2 separate regions of the Homo sapiens genome follow, and region 1 is linked to region 2. A link means that fine-mapping ties the variant in region 2 to the expression of a gene that starts in the linked region. Tissue or cell type: whole blood. Region 2 holds a variant in brackets; the other region holds the start of a gene. All regions are shown on one strand. Distances are from middle to middle.

Region 1 (8,116 bases), 24 kb after region 2:
AATTTTTTTAAAATTTTCAACAAGTGAGAATTTTAATGAATTAAGGGAAAACACTAGTAATCTACTAAGCCTGAGAAGCAAAGATAAAAATTCCTTAAGAACAGCAACAAAGATAGCTTCCTCTTTAAGTTATGAAGGTGATTTCTTAAAATGTCAGCATTTCCTGAAATAATATTAAATATGCTCTGATTTTGCACTAATTTTCAATAATAGGAATTCTAGGTCAGAAAAAACTGCAAAATTAATATTTCTTTGTGACTTTCACTGACTGGCAAAGTAAAACTATGTTATAAATGTACTTGTAAAAGCAATAAACATGTATTTATCCTTTGCAATTAAATTGTTGAAGTAAATGATAAAACTGTTGAATATCTCAGTGGAGAGATAATTGAATATTTTATATGAGCAAGCACTCTCCCCTAGAATTTGTCATGTATTCTGATTTTATAGCTGCTAAAAATAGAATTGTTTTTCAAATTTAATCATTCAAAAAATTTTTGATTATTAGTTTTTGGCCATAAATAAATAGACAGCTTTTTCATGTCTCATTGTCATATTTAAAAAGAGGTGCTTTTGAACAAAATCAGTTGTCCTATAGGCAGCACAAGGTACTCAGTAGGGGTCTAAATATTAAAAAGAATGACATTTTTTTTTTTTTGTGAGTCAGATAAATTTTACATAAGGTTGAATAGTACTAGAGCTTCAGGATTTGATACCATGTTTTCTACAATTCTGCTCACTCTCTGTGGCCCCTTAATACTTCTTGTCCCTGCTTAAAACAACAACAACAACAGCAACAACAAATCTCTTCAGGCCATTTCTTTAATCCAAAGATACACTGTTATGTAGATGTCAACTGGGTCATATTTCACTATAAAAGAATAGAGCGACTTCATTAGCTTAAACATATATATCGACAATATGTTCGACTCATTCTTCTCATGGCTACCAATTAAAATCTAGCAGAAAACCATTAAATTGTTAAAATAAGATGCAAACTAAGCAGAATGAAGCAACTATAGGTTGTTTATCTATCACCAGGAAGACATGCTCAATCTTTAAGAGAAATCATGATCTCATGATCTACTTGCTCATATAACATTTCATTGAGTCAATCTAAAATTCCTCAAGTGCTCTCTAAAAATCTAGTTTCTGATAGGTGTTACATTTTTTGAAATTTTGGAGAAAACAACCACAGTCTCCTTCCCTATAGGTGTTTCTAGGAAGTTTGGTAAAATTTTGACAATTAGCAGTGGATTTCCCCAGCGTTCTTGAGAACTGGTCAAATTCTACTGAAGTTCAGACTTACAAATATTTTCCCCTCTTTTTTTTCCCAACTTATTTTTCTGCCTGGGGCGTTCGTTTTATAACCAAAGTTATACTGGCACCCCTGTTTTTAAAACCTTTTTGAGTCAACTGTGGTAACACCTAATTCCAGACTCAACCTTAGTGGCAGAAATTGTAAAGCAACTGAGAGGATTCATGCTCTGGTAGGCTTTTAAATATGAAGAGTTTACTTTCTCTTTTATCCTGTACAGTATAATCAGCAATAAAAGTTATCTCTTGGGGGATGAAGAATAAACCAAGGTATAAACTGCAAAAGACATGTTTACCTAGGTATATTGCATTACCCCCCAATGAAAAACTGCACATTCCTAAATATATAAATGAATAATAAGGACCACTTATCATGCATGCAATTTTTTTTTACTACTACTGTACTTTTGATTAAATTTCTGAAATAGTCCTAAAATAGAACTCATGAGTTCAGGTTGTGGCTGTAAACATAAAACTCTCTGTCAGTCCAAGTGGAAATGGTGTTGCCACCTTGAGTATTTGGAAAAATAGAAGAAAGAGTTTGCTACAAATATCCCAGTAGCAAAATATTTCCTGCCAATTGCACATGGTGCAATTTGTCATCTCACATCCATGCTCCTGGGCGTACCTGTCTACAGACGATCCTCTTGTTCCGACCAGTACTCAACAGAAGATGGCGAGGACCGTGTCTGTCGTGTCTATGCTCGTGGCTGCAACCCCAGCATCTAGCATAGCGTCAGGCACAGGACCAATGCTCAATGTGCCTGGCCCTGTGTGGAATAGAAGCAAATTAGTGCACAGCCCTAATGTGCAATGTGCGGTGAAACCTAACAGAGGAATGAGTTAGGTCAGGAGAGCAGCAGGCTGGGGAGTGTGTAACAAGCCTGGCCCACTTTTGGTATTTTGCCTAAAAATTTCCCATGCGGTGTTTCAAATAATATAAACAAATGAGGTGATTTAACTTCTAAAACTTTATTTTGCTTTGAAATGCAAACTTTTAACAAATAGCTACATAAATTCCTTTTTCGATAACCATGAAAGAGGACATATTCACTTAAAATAGAAATCATGCCAGGTAATAAAATGTTCAGTATGGTAATTCATTAAAGCAAGTACTAAGTACATTATTCACATGGCTATAAAAGCACCATCACTTTTCATGTGTTTATTAATTTTAGGCTCAAGGGTATTAAAATATTCTCGCTCTGTCTCTCCTTTTTCCCCCTTTTTTTTGGTTCCATTTCATCCTTTTTTCTGTCTACATGGAAATATGCTTACCTTGCTTTAGGTAAATACATTAGTGAACACAAAACCAAGTGACATATTTCAGCAAATTTGGGTACATTTTATATACAATGAAACAATCTTGGAAATCCAAGAACCCCTACCAGAAAGAAAAAGCAGAACGCCTCCTTCAGTTAGATAAAGTGCCTCTCTCTACTTTTTGTTGTTGTTTCTTTATTTGTAGATTTCTTGCTTAACTCTGAAACTTCCTGAGATATTTTATTAAACCCTATACCCTATTTTGGAAGCTCATTTATTTTCTAAGAAATCTTGGCAGAATATATGTTCTCATTTTAATTGCATAATTATCTGGAGCGGTGGAAAACAGATGTCTTATATTGATGTAAGCACTAACAAAACCATAGGTGTTGTTTTCATATGACTCACCTTGCCACGGATTTGCACATCTCACTTACTGAGCCAAAACACAAGAATAGAAGGTTATACCCAGAATCAACATGACCTGCCTAATGATGCAAGTTTAATGGGACCATTATTAGTTCTGTCCCTGCTAATAATAATAGAATTATAAGGAGTTTTGTTTCCCCTTTTTGTTGTTTACAAGTTTGTCATATATTTAGAAGTCATTGTTTCTTGCTTTTCCTAACCCTCCTCCCCACCCTGGGTGTAGTGAAATTATTAGGAGGTGGAGCACAGGGTATTGTTACAGCCCATGTCATAGAAAAAAGATATTTATTTGCTTACTCTGTGGTGAGTGAAGCATTTGATTCCCACTTACTGAGAAATGCGGTGGCCATGCGATGAGAAGCAGCGGCAGGGCATTGAGAACGAACCTTATCTCTGGGTGCACTTTTTAACTTAGAGGCGGTTCTTCACTCTTTCATCATCACGGCTGTAATGGTTAAAAACTCTCAGGCAGCTTCCTTCATGATGGGATGGCAACACGTTTTCTCTAAGCAAATATGGAGGAGGATTTGTACAGAGCAACTGTGCAGGAGCTGAACTGGAACTCCCAACAACCAAACTGCTGTCAAACGAAAGAATCTCTCGTCCAGATAGCCATTATCTGATAACTGTCTTGTCTGCATTTTCACTCTCTTTCAGAGTTGGTTTGCTCTCTTCAGGAGTGGGAATTAACTTTTACTCATGGTGACAAGGTAAACAAGTTTTCCGTGGGTACTCTAAAGCGTTGCATTTCTGTTTTGTTTATGTGCCTTGTTTGGCTACAGTAGTTACTGTGCCTCTGTCTCCTAGGCAACACTGACACATGATTTGATAGGAAGTAAGGCCTGAGGAGTACCCTCTCCCCACTCACTAGGCAATAGCAGCAATTCTCTGCCCTTAGAGAACCGCCTTAGCTCTTCTCTGCTTTGTGAGCAGGTCTGGTACCCTCAAGTAAATATGTGTGGGGGATGCGTTTCTGGGTGTGATAAATTGCTGCTGTCTGTCACCTGAGATCATCCTACACAAATTGTAACAATGGCAGTGTTGGTCTGTGGGTGCACCCAAGACCACCTTCCTCACGTCACATCCATTTTACCACCCAGCTGTCTTCAGAATGCTTCAATTTCAGCAAACCTCCTTGGCTTTTCCTGTCCTTTGTTCCATTTCTGTTTGATTCCTTCTGGGGAATTTCGAGGTGGCTAGCTAGCAAAGCTGGCTTTAAAAAAGTAGCTTAGCGTGTGAATAGATAAGAGTAGTGCTTATTGTATGACCCACGGCAGAGAGTAGTAAGTAGTTGCCTTTGGAAGGAGACCTTCAGTCTAGCCTAAGCGATGAGTGATGCAGGATTCCCTGTCTCCTTAGGAGCTGACTGGGAGAGTCTCAGACAGAGCAGATGCAGAAAGATGGTGGCCCAGGTTGGATCAGTGGTTCTGTTTGTGAGATGAGAGACAGGCTTCCTGGAGGCAATTTCCAAAAGGCTCAGTGTAGAAGCTGTGCAAGTACAGTCAGCGTGTGTGCCTGGGGTTCCCAAGGTGACCATTTTAGCAGTTGCCAAAATGAAACCGGAGCAATTGTTATCAGGTTGAAAATTGTTGTCAGACCTGAAAAATGTGATTTTCCTCGGGGAAAGGGGAAGTAAAACAAGGAACAGAGAGAGATCCATTTATTTGCTAAGAGGCACCCAGAAAAGTTTAGATATAGTATCAACTATCTGGCCTACTCTTTTAAGTCCTGCCCATCTGTTTATACATGTAACATATTTGTCACTAATGAAACCTTAAAAATACTTATTAATCATTGGGAAGACAGTAATTTCTGGCTTAAAAGCCTGCTTTAATGGCCTCTCTCCGTATATATATATGTATATTTTTTGAGATGAAGTCTCACTCTGTCGCCCAGGCTGGAGTGCAGTGGCGCAATCTCTGCTCACTGCAACCTCTGCCTCCCAGGTTCAAGCGATTCTCTTGCCTCAGCCTCCCGAGTAGTTGGGATTACAGGCACCCGCCACCACGCCTGGCTAATTTTTTGTATTTTTGGTAGAGATGGGGTTTCACCATGTTGGCCAGGCTTGTCTCAAATTCCTGACCTCAAGTGATGCACCCGCCTTGGCCTCTTAAAGTTCTGGGATTACAGGTGTGAGCCACCACACTCAGCCAATGGTCTGTATATTTCTTACATTCATTTACTCAAATATTCATTGAATGCACCTATGCACTATGCTAGGCGCGGTGAAGGGTATAAAGAAAATTAGATCTGGCTGCTCCTTCCATACCACCTTCCTGGGTATATGATCTTTAATTAACTACGCCAATAAAAACAAACAAACAAACAAAGCAAACACATGCTCATACAGAAACACTGTCTCTATGTTTCTGTATAAGCACAAACGAAAAAATGAGAGGCAGGGACTTTTTTTTTTTCTGGCGGGGGGTTGCGGGGGGGTTGTTTGTTTGTTTTGAGATGGAATTTCAGTCTTGTTGCCTAGGCTGGAGTGCAATGGCGCGATCTCAGCTCACCACAACCTCCACCTCCCGGGTTCAACCGATTCTCCTGCCTCAGCCTCCTGAGTAGCTGGGATTACAGGCCCCCGCCACCACACCCAGCTAATTTTTTTGTATTTTTAGTAGAGATGGGGTTTCACCACGCTGGTCAGTCTGGTCTTGAACTCCTGACAGGTGATCCACCCACCTCGGCCTCCCAAAGTGCTGGGATTACAGACGTGAGCCACTGAGCGAGGCCTGTTTGGTTTTTTATGGCAATAATTTAATTCTTTATAATAAAGTGTAAACGTCCAAAGACAGTATGATAGAACATGCTGGAAGAATTCACAAAAGTCGTTTTTTTAAAAAGTGAAATTAAATGTGTCTGCATCCTTTAAGCAAAACAATGTGAGTTTAGCCAAATAGAAATATGAATAGTAATAAAACGAAAATCATGGTTCAGTGGCTCTACCATGAACTTTGGTTAAAGGAGCTTATTAAAGGTATCAACTTCTAGAACTTGATTCCATGGAAATAATGGAAAAATGTAGATCAAGATTTATACAAAAGAGAGCAAAATTCATTGTACCTTTACAATAGTAAAATAGTAAAAGTACTATAGGAATGGTGAAGAGAAATATGTAACTGCTCAAGGTTGAAATATGTGATGTGGATGTCAAAAGGAATGTTTATCAATAACTTTTTTTTTTCTTTTGAGACAGGGTGGTGCCCTGTCACCCAGGCTGGAGTGCAGTGGCAGGATCTCGGCTCACTGCAGTCTCTGCCTCCTGGGTTCAAGTGATTCTCGTGCCTTAGCCCCCGGAGTAGCTGGGATTGCAGGCATGTGCCACCATGCCAGATAATTTTTGTATTTTTAGTAGGGAGAGGGTTTCACCATGTTGGCCAGGGTGGTCTCAAACTCCTGGCTTGTGATCCTCCCACCTTGGCCTCCCAAAGTGCTGGGATTACAGGTATGAGCCAATCAAGAACTTTTAATAACATAGGGTATTATGAAAAAATGTTAAGTAAAAACAACAGGAGGGTATACACACATGTAATTTTTTTTTACAGTCTTATTTTTGGTCAGAAGATCAGACTAACAGGAATAGTTATCTCTAAGTGGTAGGTGTATTAGTCAGCTATTGCTACAGAACAAGCAACCACAGAACCCTCAGTGGTAAACTGTGATAGGCATGTATTTGTAGCCCATGTGTCTGAGTTTTGACTGGGGTCTGCTTAATCTTGGGCTGGGATCCAGATCACAAAGTGAGTTCAGATTTGTTCCAAGTATCTGCCATTCATTTGGAACCAGTGGCTACCCAGGGCATAATCTTTTTATGGTGACAGCAAAAGTGCAAGAGAGCAGGACCAACTGCACAAGCACGCATCAAGCATCTGCTCATGTCACATTCCCTGACATCTCAAGAGGCTGAGCAAATTGCATGGCCAAGCCCGGAGTCAAATGGACGAAGCCCAAAGTACATTCCACCATGATAAGGCCATGATAAGGATGTGGACATGGACAACTCCTAGTGGGGAGTGAAGAAATGGGACCAACAGTTCATTCTACCACGGCAGGGTTAGTGTTTCTCTTACTTTTATTCTGTGTTTCTATATTTACAAACGTTTTATTCTGTACAAATGCAGGCAGAAAAAGTTATTTTAAAAAATATTAGAGACATACAGATCAATTTAATAGAATTGAGAGTCAAAAATAAACTCTCGCATTTAGGGTCAATTGATTTTTGACAAGAGTGTCAAGACAATTCAGCGGGGAAAAGATCAGCCTTTCAATAAGTGGTGCATATCCACATGCAAAAGAATGCCTCGCAGCATAGACAAAAATGAATTCCAATGGGATCAAAGACCTAAAAGTAAGAGGCAAAACTATAAAATTCTTAGAAGAAAACATAGGCATAAATCTTCATGACCTTCATTTTGTTTCTTTCTTTTTTTTTTTTTTTTTTTTTGAGACAGAATCTTACTCTGTCGCCTAGGCTGGAGTGCAGTGGTATGATCTCAGCTCACTGCCAACTCCCCTGCCTCCTGGATTCATGCGATTCTCCTGCCTCAGCCTCCCGAGAAGTTGGGATTACAGGCGTGTGCCACCACACCCGGCTAAGTTTTATATTTTTACTAGAGATGGGGTTTTGCCATGTTGGCCAGGCTGGTCTCGAACTCCTGATCTCAGGTGATCCACCCACCTTGGCCTCCCAAAGAGCTGGGATTACAGGCATGAGCCGCCGCACCTACCCAATGGTTTCTTCAATAAGATACAAAAGCAGACACAACAAAAGAAAAAAATAGATAAACTGGATTTCACCAAAATTAAAAGCTTTTGTGCTTCAAAGGATACCATGAAGAAAGTGAAAAAAGACCGGATGCAGTGGCTCACGTCTCTAATCCCAGCACTTTGGGAAGCCAAGGTAGGCAGATCACCTGAGGTCAGGAGTTTAAGACCAGCCTGACCAGCATGGTGAAACCCTGTCTCTACTAAAAAACACAAAAATTAGCCAGGTGTGGTGGCAGGTGCCTGTAATCCCAGCTACTCAAAGGCTGAGACAGGAGAATGGCTTGAACTCGGGAGGCGAAGGTTGCAGTGAGCTGAGATCGTGCCACTGCACTCCAGC
Region 2 (8,000 bases):
AGTATAGTCTTAATTTGAATTCTGGGGTCTCCAACCTTGGAGATTAAAAAAAAAGTATTTCGAGGTAATTTGACTCTCTGCTCTGACTCAAGGAGAATACCTTTCTTGCCATTAAAAAGGAAGTCACAGATGTTTCTTTTCAAGAAATCAATGGGCACTGCCATTTGGTTATGCAAAGATGGGTTTCAGAAAGAAGAAGTCACACAGCCTATTCTTGTAAGGAGGAGAAGCTCTCCAGACTCCCCATTTGATTCCTGGGTGCTTTTTAGGCATCACTAACGTAAAGCATTTGGGAAATTCAGTTGTCTGGTGTCTGGGGACCTCAGTTTCCATTATTTTTGACATCTTAAGCATTTGACCTTGCAAATAAGCCAATAGTCTGCTATTCTTCTATGACCCTAGAATGTATATGGAGTGGGACATGGGGTGCAGGTGGGCTGGGACAGTGGCAACACAGAGGGCAGAAGGACTGCAAGTATTGGACCCAAACTAGTCCCAGCTCTGCCTCTGGGAGCTTTGTCAAGCCACTTCCCTTTTAGGGCTGCAGTCTCTCTTGATCTAGAATTCTATGATGTATGAAGTTTAGACTACTAGCTCTTAGGAGATGAATTTGATTTGGAAGCCTGTTACACCTTAAATTCTGCATGTAAGTATGAACTTTCAGTGCTTACATATTGATTTTGAATCTGATTTCAGACTCAACAATAGGTTTCCAGGGAAAAGAGCTAATTAGTAAATTGATGGGATGCTTCCAACAGAGCAGGCCTGCTGTGTTTTTAGAGCCAGCAGGTGCTGGGAGAAGTTCAAATGGCACCAACAGGGTTGGATAATTGAGAGGATGTCAATATGGCAGTCTATGATACAGGGTTTAACTAGCTTCCTGTGACTTGCCTCCAGTTGGAGGGGAGAATGGCATCATTCATGAATGAACATCCCAAACCAGATCACAGGCTTCCAGTGCAGGCAAGTCAGGAGCAGACCTTTTGGGTGAGTGAGCTTTCAAGGCAGCTGTCAAATGGACTGTGGGAGGTACCTGGTTTAGAGAAATAAAAAGAGGGCAGCAAAATGCAGCCTCAGTGAACAAAATGTGTAGAGTAGTGAAGGACCCGGATCACACACACAGCTTGCACTATGTTCATCTGGTGGAACTGGGCTTGCATTAACCGAATAGAGAGAGGAAATGGAGACTGTGTATTTGTGTACGTGTGTGTATTTGTGTGCATGCGTGTATTTGTGTGTGCATTCAGGATCAGCTGGATGGCTCACTGCAGTACTGCTTGTCTGCAATATCCCCCAGTAGGACTAGACTTGATGAAGTTGAGTGGGGAATTCCTCATGGCAGTTTTCTTCTCTGCAGGCTTTCCCACAAAGCACCAAGGGCTATGTACCTTCTGGAGCCCCCCAAGCAACCCAGAACTTTCTTCCCTATAAGGGGTTGCTGGGCCTATTTTATCAACCTGCTAAAGCAGATGAAAGCTGGCTGCAGAGGATGTAGTCATCACATAGAAGTAAGCAACAAGGGATAAAGAGGGTTAGTCCTAGACCAAGTGTGGTGGCTCAGGCCTGCAATCCCAGCACTTTGGGAGGCCAAGGTGGGTGGATCACTTGAGGTCACGAGTTCAAGATCAGCCTGGCCAACATGGTGAAAATGCTGTCTCTACTAAAGATACAAAATTAGCCAGGCGGGGTGGCATGAGTAATTCCAGCTACTCCGGTGGCTGAGGCAGGAAAATTGCTTGAACCCCCATGGGAGGTGGAGGGTGCAGTGAGCTGAGATCATTGTGTGACTGCCCTCCAGCCTGGGTGAGAGAGTGAGACTCCATCTCATAAAAAAAAAAAAAAAAAAAGGTTTAGTCCTGGTTCTGCCACTTGCTACCAAAGTGACCTTCGGCAGGGTAGCCTCTCCAGCTTCTATGTCCTGCATTATAAAACAGGGATAAGGATCGAATGAATTAACACATGTGAAGTGCTTAGCACAGTGCTGGTACACAGGTGCTCAATAAATATTACTTACTATAATTACGATTAGGATGAAATGCATTGTGTCAACAAATTCATCAAGATAATTTCCCTTTCATCAAAGCAAGGCCAAAATTGGAGTGCTATCAGAATTCTAAAAATGCAGAGAGATAAACTCAGGCCAGGAGAAATAAACACACACCAAATATTCTAGATACTGAGGAACAGAAAAGGGTATGGGTATTCCTACCCTTCAAGGATTTAGGGTTCAAAATGTTCATTAAGATGAATCTTATGAAGAACTTGGACAGGAACATTTAGACAAGAATGGCCTGAAGAGGCTAACTTCATTCCCAATGGCTTGTCTGGATGGAGGCTGACAGGGTCAAGAGCTGGCAGAGCTTCCTGCTTGCACAGCCCCCAGCCCCTCTTGCTGAGTGTGGCCCATCCTCCAGCCTCAGTTTCCCTGGCTGGAGTAATAGCCCCCGGGGCAATGGAACATCTCGAAAAGAACCCAGGTGTGGAGCCAATCCTCTAGCTGTGTTCCAAACCCGGATGTCCCACCTACTATCTGTGTAGCTTCCAGCAGTTCCTTCACCTCTCTGCATCTGTTTTCTCACCTGTGTGATTAGGAAATCATGTGTGTGATGATAAAAGATGATGTAGATGAATATGTCCTGCACAGGGGCTGGCCCCCTGACAGCATCCCTCCCTCCCACAAGCTGCCATCCCTCCATGAGGCAGAATGTATGCCTAGAAGGGTGATGTAGGCACCAATAGAGGTGGCTGCGCCTGAAAGCACTGTGGGAACTCCCTGCTCCTGGCATTTGGAGATGAAATCTGAAAGGTCCCTGTTAGGCCTCCTTCAGGCTAGTGGGATGACCACAGGCGTGAGGCAGTCCGCCCCCCCTGGTGGGAACAAATGGTGGGGCTGCCAGGTGGGATCTAACCAGCCTGGACAAAAGGAAGCAGTGTGACCAAGCCATCTGTCTACACAGGGAAAGCAGAACCACAATAAGCTGTGTTAGTCTTAGGTAAGCCTAAGTGGGTCTTTCATGTTGTTATTGGGTCAACTCTTGTTACTTTTAAGCAATTTCTGCTACTGTGTAGACCCAGTGGCTCCCATCTGTAACCTCAAAAGAGTTTTGCAAGATTATTTTGGAAGGCCTAGGGATAGCTCATGTGGACCCTCCTACAACATTTCCCTTTCATCTTCCTTCGTGTTTTGCCACAGTGTGAGAATTTAACAAGAAAAAGCTGCTGAAGGAGAGTGACGGGATCAGGAGAGACAGAGAGAAGGGATTAGAGCTCCAGGTGGGAGTCAGAGTGCAAGGAATCAGGTTGGAGCTGCGGGACCTTGGCACAATGCAGGCAAACTGGAAAATGAAGATGCATTTGATGGTCCCAAAGGTGACTTCAGTTTTTGATTCCAGGTGCCCAGGACAAAGGTACCAAGTCACCTCACACATCAGCCCATGAATATCAAGTCAAAAGAAAAAGGCACAGGAGTTTCTCTGGGGTGGCCTTCCTTCCAGCCCATATTGCCATAGGCCACCCTGATACCCTACCTCAACCCATTTTCCTTAAGTCCTAACAGATTCTAGGATGTGTCACGGGACTCTGAGACCCCCACTCCACCAGCTCAAACTCCGACAGGAAAGCAAAGGCCAAGATTTCCTATGAACAACACATCTCTATGTTTAAGGAGCTGTCTGCTGTGCCCCTGTCTGCTGTGACCTCATGAATGAGTGATCTGAAAATTGCTGTGACCTCATGAATGAGTGATCTGAAAACGGTGCTGAGTCTTCTACTCCCCTGGGTGTAGGTGCCATACATCTCAAGACTAACGAAAGTCAAATTTGGGCCATCAAATTTTGCTTTCAGTGAGGTCAAAGCAAAACTCCATCGTTTCTTTGAAGGGCAATTGCAGTGATTGTAGTCTGTCACAGAAGAAGCAGTTCTCAGAACCACTGATCCTGACCAAAGACACGGCCAGAAATAAGTGCAGGGTAGACCCACATAAGTCTCTTTTCCTCAAGCAAGGATATGACTATGGAAAAATTTATTTTCATCATTCCTCGTTTCACACTTGGCATTTGAGCTTCATGGATGGCGGGAAGAAGAGAAGATGATGGACTTGAGAAAACACACAGCTTCATGAAGACCAGGGTCAGGAAACAAAAGGTTTCGATAAACAGGAGACAGCAAAGATAACAAAGGAACAGAAGAATCCGGAAGTTAAG[A/G]AAGTTTAAAAAGGAGAAAGACATGTAAAAATTGGGAAGTTAGCTCTTAAGATAAGACAGAGAAGCCAGCTGATCTAGGGCAGGTGATAACGAGTACTGATAAAATGAAACTGCTACTTCCATAAAAAAAAAAATCCCAGCCCAGCTATAGTCCCAGCTACTCAGGAGGCTAAGGCAGGAGGATTGCCTGAGCCCAGGAGTTCGAGACCAGCCTGGGCAACATAGTGAGACCCCTCATCTCTTAAAAAAAAATTCTGAATCAAATTGTAGGCCTCATTTAGTTTTTTGAGAAATCTTCCAAAGGAGAAGTCACTATATCAAAAAGACACCTAACGTGCATGTTTATCACAGCACCATTCACAATTGCAAAGATATGGAATCCACCTAAGTACCTATCAACCGATGAGTGGATAAAGAAAATGTGGTAAACATACACAATGAAATACTACTCAGCTGTACAAAAAGAATGCAATAATGTCTTTTGCAGCAACTTGGATGGAATTGGAGGCCATTACCCTAAGGAAAGTAATCAGGAACAAAAAACCAAATACCATATGTTCTCACTTATAAATGGGAGCTAAGCTTTGGGTACACAGAGGCATACAGAGTGGTATAATGAACATTGAAGACGCAGAAGGGGAGAGGGTGGGAGGAGCATGGGGGATGAAAAGTCACCTATTCAGTATGATGTAAACTATTTAGCTGATGGGTACAATAAAAGCCCAGACTTAACCACTATGCAATTCATCCATGTAACCAAAAACCACTTGTACCCCTAAAGCTGCTGAAATAAAACAATTGTTTTTAATTTAAAAAATTCCATGCTCTGGAAATTCTAGGACAGGAGAGCCAATCAGGCACTGTTCAGAGCAAGCAAAGAGCACTCACTTGCTAACTATACCCCCTCCCTGCTGTCCCCTGTGCTCCTTGGCTGGCCAGGGACCTTACCAACAGAGCTGGACAGCACCCCCAGCCTCTCCCAGCTCACCTTATCTCATCAATCAAAACTTACTCTGTGTCTCATTTTTTAAATTAAATAACCTTGGGCTATAATGGGTTAATTAGTTAATCAAATCTATTCTAATTCACTGATTGGCTCATATGTCATCTATTTGAGAAAATTGTATATTAATAGCCACTTCTTGGCTGTTTGACAACTGCTGAGTCATTTAGTATCTCAGGACCTCCATTTTCTTACATTAAAATAATGGGGGGGAAATTAATAACTATGAAAGGGTTGATATTTGAGTTGAGTCTTGGAGTAAAATGGAGTGGGAGGGCTACAGCATGCTGTTTTTAAGATAAGGCAAAAGAGGAGAAAGCATAGTTAAAGGAAATGAATGTAGCAGCAAAATCGCCTGATGGACTCCTAGCTGAGTATAATTATTGCTGCATCCTCAAGGGATAAAAAAGAGCCATGCAAAATGTCCCAGAGGGGCTTGGACTTCCTATTACGTTTATTAATCATCTTGATGAAAATGGAAAGTCTACATTGATTAAATTCACTAATGATCCTAAACTGAGCAGAGGAGTAAATTCCAGAAAGGATGGATTTATAAGGTGAGTAGTAATATTAATCAGCTCATCTTCATGAAAAGGATGGCAGTAAATGAAATGGGATTTGCTATAGATAATGGCAACGAGGTACACCTGGGGGAAAACTATAATGAGCCCAGATTCAAACTAGGAAGGTGTTATTTAGGAAATAATAATGGTAAGAGAGCTCTAAAGTGGAGAGTGAATAATAAATTAAAAACAAGCTTAAAATAAGCGCTCGTTATGGATCACAATTTCACTCTCAGCACTTTTGCAGTGGGGTGGTGCAGAGGAGGTGAATGTGAATGGCAGAGGTGGAAGCAGGTTTGTAGTGCAGCACTTATATTTTACAGGTGAGGATGCTAAGCCCAGAGAGGTTAGGTGTAGACTGACTAGGCCAGGGTGGAAAAACCCTGTCATGCTCGTCACCACTCTGTCCCTTGCAGTGGTGGCAGGAGATCACGATTCCTTCTGACAATCTAAATTTAGCCTCAGAATCCTCAATGCTGCACTCTAAGCAGTCTCTGATTACTTTGCTCACAAAACATTACCTTTTGTCATCTCTAGCTTATAACATAGAGCTAGATGTTGGCAGAGCCGTAGCTAAAAACCTAGATGTCCTGAATATCTAGTGCTTCTTTTTCACCTAATACGTTCTAAATTCTCTACAGTCAACATTGACTATGACTTCAAAAGTCAAAGACTCAGAAAGCATAACTAACTTCTTATCTAGGATTCTGACCTTGGTATCCATCATCTTGGTTTAAGTTTCCTTAGACAGCATTTTAAAATCTCCAAAATTGAATACATATAGAGAGAGGTGTTGGGAAGACACTTAGAAATAGCAATAGTTTTGAGCCAGTGAGTTTTGTGCCCCTGGGGAGTAACATAAAGCATTTTTAAAAAGAAGTCTATTGAATTCAAGTAACAAAAATTAAACTTCCACCTTAGGCATTTGACAAAATTAATGACCTTGTTAAAAATTCCCTGAGACTGATTAATGCTTCTCGTATTTGTTTCCCTCCTGGGGAACAGAGTGAATTTTCCTGGTGCAAATGGAGCCATGTCGAGGAAAGTCCTGTGTGTGCTGGGTCAGTTTAGTTAGGTGGGGGCATCAACCTAGGGAGGAGGGGAGGGAGGGGAAGATTGGTCTCAACAGAATTATGAAGCAGGTGAGTTTAGCCCATTCTCACTTCCTTTTAGTGTCCTTTCAGTTCCCTCTCCCCAGGAAGGCTCATGCTGCTCCTGTAAGTCTCTCTGAGTGATGTGAGGGCTACCCCTGTAAGGCTGAGCTGGTTGTGTGTTGCACAACTTTAGGGGACGCTATTCTCCCTTGGGAACTCGGTAACTTAGCACGACCAGCCCCCTGGCAGATTCAGAACAGTTCTCCATTTATTAGGCCTTTCCTTATCTTTCCCAGTCTTCAGTGGAAATCTACCTGCTGTGTGTCAGATCGGAGTCATTTTCACATGGGCTGATGGGTCACTGCCCGAGACTTTCCTGAAGACCTACCCCATAGCTTAAGCGAATGAATTAAATAGTAGAACATTTTGGCATGTGCCTGAACTAAATCTCTCCTATGTATACTCTTCCAATGGTTGATGAATACCTCATAGGATTCATGAGAGATGGCATCCACATGCTTGATCACCCATAATCACAAAGGTTGGCTACCAAGATGTCTTTTTTTTTTTTTGAGATGTCGCCCAGGCTGGAGTACAGTGGCGCAATCTTGGCTCACTGCAACCTCTGCCTCCTGGGTTCAAGTGATTCTCCTGCCTCCCGAGTAGCTGGGACTACAGGCGCGCACCACCACGCCCAGCTAATTTTTTGTATTTTTAGTAGAGACAAGTTTCACCATGTTAGCCAGGATGGTGTCGATCTCCTGATCTGCCCACCTCGGCCTCCCAAAGTGCTGGGATTACTGGTGTGAGCCACCGCACCCATCCCCAAGATCTCTTAAATAAGACTTTAATCTACCCAGCACTTTAAAGCTTGCAGAATCCTGTCCCACCATGCCAGAGTGTCCAGAGATCAAGTGCTAGAGTCAGTTAATCTGGGGTTAGAGCCCCATCCCTGCCACTTGTTGGCCATGCAGAACAGAGTTAAGCCAATTACCTAAACTTTCCAAACAAGTTTTTTGATAGGACTAAGATTATGTATTTAGCATAGTGCTTGGCAAAATAAATAAAAATTAAAAAACACATGTAATCTGCTATCCCTGCTGTTGTTTTTATTTCAGATACGGTGTGGGGCAGGAAA

Evidence for each region. PIP is the estimated chance that this variant, and not a neighbour inherited with it, causes the effect.
Region 1: IL5RA starts here. The variant in region 2 is fine-mapped to the expression of IL5RA in whole blood (TOPMed, PIP above 0.99).

Annotation. Positions count from the first base shown.
Region 1 is chr3:3,106,605-3,114,720 of GRCh38, forward strand. IL5RA (interleukin 5 receptor subunit alpha) reads right to left here and starts at 3,770. Exons shown (of 12, transcript NM_175726.4): 1 at 3,341-3,770; 2 at 1,946-2,087. RefSeq lists a silencer at 2,936-3,055 and an enhancer at 3,136-3,215.
Region 2 is chr3:3,082,226-3,090,225 of GRCh38, forward strand. All of the region lies in intron 9 of IL5RA (interleukin 5 receptor subunit alpha), which reads right to left. Among named protein-coding and RNA genes, the nearest start is that of IL5RA, 24 kb to the right of the region's middle. RefSeq lists a silencer at 6,857-7,026. The variant A/G (reference allele first, on the strand shown) is at 4,203.